2 linked regions of the Homo sapiens genome follow. The protein of the gene in region 1 purifies or fractionates together with the protein of each later gene. This does not show direct contact. Each region holds a gene or a part of one and is shown in the gene's direction. Other genes may lie near its edges. The genes, in order: DSC2 and OLFM4.

Region 1 (3,831 bases):
TTATCTAGGTTATATTTATCTATGTTACTTGTTAATGTTTAAAACTAAGGAAAGTTTAAATTATATATTAATTTAAATATTAAAAATAATAAATTAATTACATGTTAACAGTTAAAATTCTTATAAAATAACAGTAAAAATTGTTACACTTTTTCTTCTTTTTGTACTTACAAAATAAGTACATTTTCCAAAACAGTACAATTTAGTGGGAAGAATGACATTGTTATGCATTTTTCCAAATGTTTTTAGTATTTTGCTTAAGACAGGTGGATTCTCATATCTCCTTCTGCATTTAGTCTGTTACAATATGTAGTTTTAGCTGAAGCATATATAAAGGCAATCTGACATGATATAAAATTAGAAAAGAGAGTAGTATTTTGATGATAATTACAGATCACTGTGGATATTATTCCTTGATACTACATGAATACTTGATAAGGAGTAGCTTGTTTCCTAAATGTTTTTGGTAATGTGGACTCTGAATCCTCAACAATGACCTTTTGTACTTTATTACGTTAAAATCCATTGCTCTATCTTACACTTTGAGTGACCATTTTACCAGTACATCATTCTATATTGTGCATTGGTCATTTGGAAAATATTGGTTCACCAAGTAATGCAGAGCTTCCAAATATTGACACATTGCATTAAATAATATCAAAAAGATCACCTCTTTACTTCCATTGATATCACATTGGTTGATAAAGGTTTTCCAAGCTTCTCATTTTTGTTTGAAATCTCCAATTTATCATTGGCAACAAATAGTTGTTTTCCCTGAAGTGACAGATTAACTTTATGTTTTACAAAATACTTTCATAAAACTATAGTCTGCATAGCCATAGATGTCTATGTGAAAATAGCATTCTATGGAAAAAAAAAAAAAGCAAAAACTCAACAGCTTGTTCAGCTCCTAAATCAAACAATCACAGAAGTGCTTTTCTTTGAATAGATTCTTCTGAAATAATCAGTTGAAAACACTTGTCCAGTGAAGGTGTTTATCCAGTGGTGCTCTCTAGTAACTTTTTGACCTCAGGATTCCGGTTTTCTTCAGTTGCCTACAACCTTTTAGTCCCTTTAAACATCAGAATTTCTCTTCCATCTGAAGATAGCATAAGTTAATACTTAGGGTATCAAACTTCATTTCCTTGTTTCATTAGCCAGTTAATTATTTCCAATAAATTTTAGTTCACTACAAACAAAATATGTATTCCTTCTTGAAAGTACAGTAGCATGATGTTTTAAAATTTTTCAGTTGAAATAAGGCCATTATTTTTCAAGTCTACACATGTGATTGGTTATGAGGGAGGAGTAAATCTGGAAAATTATGTGTGTTAAAAGCAGGAAGATCAAGAGAAACTTTAGTTTTATTTTAGATAATGCCTAAGGAAAAGAAAGTTTCAGAGATGATGGAATTAAGGGAAGAATCTTTGTAAGAGAAGGGTGAACATTCTAGGTAGAAGATGAGGATAGATTTTAACATGCTATTTTGTCTTATGAAAAGAGATAAATTAGGTAGGAAAGGTAAGCATCACCATCTTATAGAAGAAGAAACCTAGACAAAGTGAATTTTCCAATTGCCCAAGATTGTGTCTCTTATTTTTGGAGTTGGAAATAGAACCCAAGTCTCCTAATGCTCAGTCCGGAAAGCATTATTACTGTATTGTTTTTAATTCTCCCATATCTCAATCACTTATGATAAATGAAAGTTATAAGGAGAAACACTTTAAAATATTTAAATGCTTCAGATGTTTAAAAATATTTTTTAAGGTAGTGATGAGTTTTCAACAATATCTGATAAATTGAAAGCCTTAAGAGCCAGATTCTATTTTCCACAGAAAGAAAAAAACCTACATAGCCCCAGACCTTTATCTTCATGTCAGTTTAGATGATCTCTTAAATGTAACATAAACCCTTAAAATCTATATTTTTTGCAGGAAGAAATTTCATTTTATTGTTTTGTTAAAAGACTATTTTAAGAGTCATTGCTGTCTATTTTTTTGAACATAAGAATGTACTTTGGCTAGGAGATAAAGGTTTTGATTAATTACCAGGCAATTTTAAATGCACTTGTGGCAAATAGCTCTTCTTTTTCTGTTGAATAAAGACAAAACCAATTGAATCTATATTCTGTAAGTTAATAGCACTATAAATTTGAGAAACTATTCAATTTTCATAAATTGATTAAAAATTCCTAGTGTGATTCTCCTGCCTCGCTTGAACCCGGGAGGCAGAGGTTGCAGTGAGCCAAGATCACACCACTGCACTCCAGCCTGGGCAACAGAGCGAGACTTCGTCTCAGAAAAGAAAAAGAAAGAAAAGAAAAGAAAAATTACTAGTGAGAGAAAATTCTTCTAATACACGAATGCTGTGAAATGTAATAATGCACTTCTTAAATTCTTAGTGCAAAAAAATTATGGAGTGTAAAGTAAGATTTCAATTATAATGTTGGTGCTTTCCCCCAATAATTAAATTCTTTTTTTGTTTTCAGTTAATTGACAAGTACCAGTTGAAAATAAAAGTACAAGACATGGATGGTCAGTATTTTGGTCTACAGACAACTTCAACTTGTATCATTAACATTGATGATGTAAATGACCACTTGCCAACATTTACTCGTACTTCTGTAAGTGTATGATATTAATTAAAGAAAAATGTATAGACCAGTTTTAATTGTTTAATATGCACATCTCTGGCCTGGCGCAGTGGCTCACGCCTGTAATCTCAGCACTTTGGGAGGCCGAGGCGGGCGGATCACCTGAGGTCAGGAGTTTGAGAACAGCCTGGCCAACATGGTGAAATCCCGTCTCTACAGAAAATACAAAAATTAGCCGGGCATGGTGACAGGCACCTGTAATCCCATCTACTCGGGAAGCTGAGGCAGGAGAATCGCCTGAACGTGGAAGGCAGAGGTTGCAGTGAAGGAAAAGAAAAAAATGCACATCCCCATCCACCCCTCATGATTTCAAATGAAGTGCCCCAGTGACATTAAAAGTTGTATAGTGCTAGGGTTTCAAATCATGTAAACATAGTACTTTGGAAATTAGAAGAGTAGGATTTACTTCACATCGTGTTCAATTTTTGTGAGAGTTACTAACGAAATTTTTTGTTTGCTTTTATTATTTTAGTATGTGACATCAGTGGAAGAAAATACAGTTGATGTGGAAATCTTACGAGTTACTGTTGAGGATAAGGACTTAGTGAATACTGCTAACTGGAGAGCTAATTATACCATTTTAAAGGGCAATGAAAATGGCAATTTTAAAATTGTAACAGATGCCAAAACCAATGAAGGAGTTCTTTGTGTAGTTAAGGTAAGAATAAATTAGAACATTATTTGTAGTTTATAATATCATAGAATAGCATGCTAGAATTTAATGGAAAGAAAGGAATTCTGATAAATGTAGAATAAAATAGGTATATAAGTAAATGCAAATGCTCTGTTCTTCATATACAATGGAAAGAATATATTAGTTTTTGATAATCTTTTGTTTAGGTATTTTTTTTTTTAAAAAGTCCATATAATACAATATCTATTTTGTAACCAATATCTTTAAATGGTTCAAAAACTAGCACAGCTTTGATGCCCCTGGGACAGTGCCAGACTTTTCCTAGCCCAGTTTTTCTGTGTTTGGGTCAAGGAGCCTTTATTTACTTACTGAATTTCCCAAATCAAGAGTTACTCTTGGTCAGCCCCATGGAGAGGTTATTCATAGGTTTGTTCATCATATTCAGTATATATTACATCCTTAGCATCCAGGTTCAGAATGAAAATCCTCAGTGATTCAACAATGCAAACACTTCTAAAACTTCTTTCTAATACTATTTCAGCAG
Region 2 (3,831 bases), on another chromosome or scaffold:
GTGGGACTGGAGGCTCCCAGGCAGGCTGGGCTGCCTCTCCCAAGACTGCACCTCCCAGGAGGAGCTGACATGTGGTCAGCATTGTCCACGCATTCCCAAAGCTACAGATTCATATATGTGAAAAGTTCATATGAATGATTTACTTAAATTAGTAAAGTTCACACTCTGAAGTCTTTCTGGCCCATCCCCAAGCTCTTTTGTGTCTTCTCTAACTCCATGGATGATTGCCATTTTCCTGAACACCACTGAGCATCCTTTAAGTGTCAGCTGAAGAACCTTGAGTTTTTTCCTCAAATGGATCTTTACAGACCCTTCATTTTGTCTGCACCAGGGCAGGCACACCACACATTTTTATAGGTAACAAACTCCAGAATATGCCTTGCTTTTTTTTGTGAAAATCTAGGAGAACCACATTTTATTTAGCAGAGATGACAGTTGAATCACTCATTTTTGTAGAACAACAGCTGCGATGTGCCACCAAAATGTTCCAGAGAAGCTGAGGGTGTTTCATTTGTTCCAAGAGCTGGCAAGGCCAAATGCCAACAAGCATATTTATTTCTCAAACTTCCATTTCTGTAATGGATTGGCACTTTATTTATTTTTATCATAGTCAAGGTTTTATGCCTGAGTTTTGTAGACACTGGAACCTGGCAGCCCTATATCTGCAGTGCACTTCTCAGGGGGACTTGTTAGGTTTTATATATAGTGAGCCCTCCATAGCCTTGGTTCCGCATCTGCAGATATAACCAAACTCAGATTGAAAAATTTCACGGAAAAAAACTAATAAAAATAACCATGTAACAACAGGAACTATACAAATAAAAAACAATACAACAATGATTTATATAGCATTTACATTGTTTTAGGTATTATAAGTAATCTAGACTTGATTTAAAGTATTTGGGAGGATGTGTGTAGATTGTAGGCAAATACTGTACCATTTTCTGTCAGAGTCTTAAGCATCCTTGAATTTTGTTATTCTTGGGAGGTTCTGAAACCAATCCACCATGGATACTAAGAGGTGGCCGTATATATGTTTTAACCTCCCTATCCACCAAAATATCACCAGCTTTGTCATCCTCCGAGTTATGGTACATCCAATGGCAGTGAGCATCAGTTGCCCGAGGAGATACACTAGCAGTGCCAAGGACTGTTTTTTCGACTTTCATTAAAATCCTTTTTGCCTGAAGCCCTAGCCCTTCAGGTCTGTGGTCTATGAGTCTACTTTAATTTGCACAATGGGGTTAAGTGGAAGGGCTGAAATGACAGAAGTTAGGATTGCTTTTGGTATAAGAAGGATTAAAGGCCAACATCTGGCTCTAAATTCATCCAGGCACTGTGGATCAGCTACTTGATATTAGTGTAGTTTTGGGAAAAGTATCACTTCAGTTCAAATTTTTAAAAAGCATATAAAGCCAGCAACTTATTTAATGAGCAGGTCCTTAAAAAAGCCATGGCATTTTCTTTAGAGATCAGACACAGAAAGAACCACCAACTGTGTTTATTAAAATATCCACTTGGATATTCCAATTATACACTAAACTGCCAAGGGAATTTTTGGAAGTATTTTAACTTAATGATCAGACATTCAAATATATGCAACAAATCTGTAATTTAAAGGTCTGATTGCAATAATCAGTTCTTGGAATAAATGTGGGTGCACTTAATGAAATGTGTACTCTACAGGGCACACACACTCACATATTGTGTAGTAGGTTGGATCTCTATGCCACTTTGTAAAAGGCAGAGGGGATCAAAACTAATTGTATATGGCGATCAAAGAAGGAATTCGGCATAGCGCATTTCTCCCTTCTCCAGAAAATACTTAGATGTAGAGCCATGTTTCTAAATGGAAGGAGGGTGGTGTTGGCCGTGGCAACGATTTTGTCCCCAGGGAACATTTAGCAATGCCCAGAGACATTTTTGGTTATCATAACTGGAGAGTGGTTGGATGCAACTGGCATGAAGAAGCCAGGGATGCTGCTTAATATTGTGTAATTCACAGCACAACCCCCACAAGAAATGACAATCCAGTCCCAAATGCTAACAGTGCTGAGGTTGAGAAACAATTAGAGTAAGTGTGTTGAAGGGAGGAGAGATGGCAAGAGACTATGATACAAACCAGTTTAGTTTGGGGAGTTAATGTCTTCAAACATTAAAATGGAGATTAAGAAAAAAGGGCTCAATATCACTTGATCATTAGAGAAATGCAAATCAAAGCCATAGTAAGATACCATCTCATACCAGTCCAGAATGGCTATCATTAAAAAGTAAAAAAATAACAGATGCTGGTGAGATGGCAGAGGAAAGGGAACATTTATACACTGTTGGTGGGAGTGTAAATTAGTTCAGCCATTGTGGAAAGCAGTGTGGTGACTCGAAGAACTAAAAAGAACTATTATTCAACCTAGCAATCCCTTTACTGGGTATATGCCCAAAGGAATATAAATTGTTCTACCATAAAGATACATGGGCGTGTGTGTACATTGCAGTACTATTCACAATAGCAAAGACATGAAATCAACCTAAATGCTCATCAATGGTACACTGGATAAAGAAAATATGGGCCATATACACCATGGAATACTTTGCAACCATAAGAAAGAATGAGATCATGTTCTTTGTAGGAACATGGATAGAGAGCTGGAAGCCATTCTCCGAAGCAAATTAACACAAGAACAGAAAACCAAATACCACATGTTCTCACATATAAATGAGAGCTAAATGATGAGAACACATGGACACAAAGAGGAGAACAACAGAAGCGTACTTGAGGGTGGAGGGTGAAAGGAGGGAGAGGAACAACAACAAAAAAATCTATTGGGTGCTAGGTTTAGTACCTGCGAGACAAAATAACCTTTACAACAAACCCCCATGACATGAGTTTACCTATATAACAAACCTGGGTATATACCCCTGAGCCTAAAACCTTTTTAAAAAATGGAGATTAAAATATACCTGCAAATGATGATGCTGAAGCAAAATTATGTTTAGCCTAGCAAAGTATAAAATCTACCTCCCTTCAATTGGAGTAATAAGTTCTTTGTATATGGATAGATTTTAAAAATCTAGTTAAATGTATTTTTGATCTATTTATTTACAAAACACAATGATTGGCAAGAATCAAATAGTTCTCAACTCAAGGGCTCGGTAGTGGAAGAAGATGGTGTGATACTACTCAGGGAATTGGCTTGAACCTTTTGATTTTCTTTCAGGTGAGGGAATATGTCCAATTAATTAGTGTGTATGAAAAGAAACTGTTAAACCTAACTGTCCGAATTGACATCATGGAGAAGGATACCATTTCTTACACTGAACTGGACTTCGAGCTGATCAAGGTAGAAGTGAAGGAGATGGAAAAACTGGTCATACAGCTGAAGGAGAGTTTTGGTGGAAGCTCAGAAATTGTTGACCAGCTGGAGGTGGAGGTAAGGAGTGAACTCACTTCTTGGTAAATTAATAATAAACTCCCTTCAGTGACTGTAAGCAAGTACTAGTACCAGGAAGTGAAACTATCTCTTCCAACTTCTAATTCTCTACTGTCTCATGGCCACATGGCATATCACTATGTTCTGTTTTGGATAAGGGCATGTGTTTGAATAGTAAGTTAAGCACATTGGGAATGTGCTGACTTAGGAGCAGATGTTGTCTAATGGTCAGAATCCTGCCCCAGAATAAAATGCCCTTTCAACTTCTCTGAAAAGGAGCTGGCATAAAGTTGAACAACGGTTCATGGCCAAGCTATATGAGGTGTCTTCTCTGCTCTAGATTTATCCTCATGGAACTAGAAATCCACAATATACCTGATTGTGGTAAAATTGCTAGGTTTGT

The links.
Region 2: the proteins of DSC2 (region 1) and OLFM4 purify together in Homo sapiens (co-immunoprecipitation; one large-scale study listed by IntAct). This does not show direct contact.

The regions. Positions count from the first base shown.
Region 1 is NC_000018.10:31,081,718-31,085,548, reverse strand, and holds part of DSC2 (desmocollin-2 isoform Dsc2a preproprotein), read left to right. Parts: intron 1-2,488; coding exon 2,489-2,623; intron 2,624-3,125; coding exon 3,126-3,311; intron 3,312-3,831. UniProt on the Homo sapiens protein: A component of desmosome cell-cell junctions which are required for positive regulation of cellular adhesion.
Region 2 is NC_000013.11:53,038,695-53,042,525, forward strand, and holds part of OLFM4 (olfactomedin-4 precursor), read left to right. Parts: intron 1-3,215; coding exon 3,216-3,428; intron 3,429-3,831. UniProt on the Homo sapiens protein: May promote proliferation of pancreatic cancer cells by favoring the transition from the S to G2/M phase. In myeloid leukemic cell lines, inhibits cell growth and induces cell differentiation and apoptosis.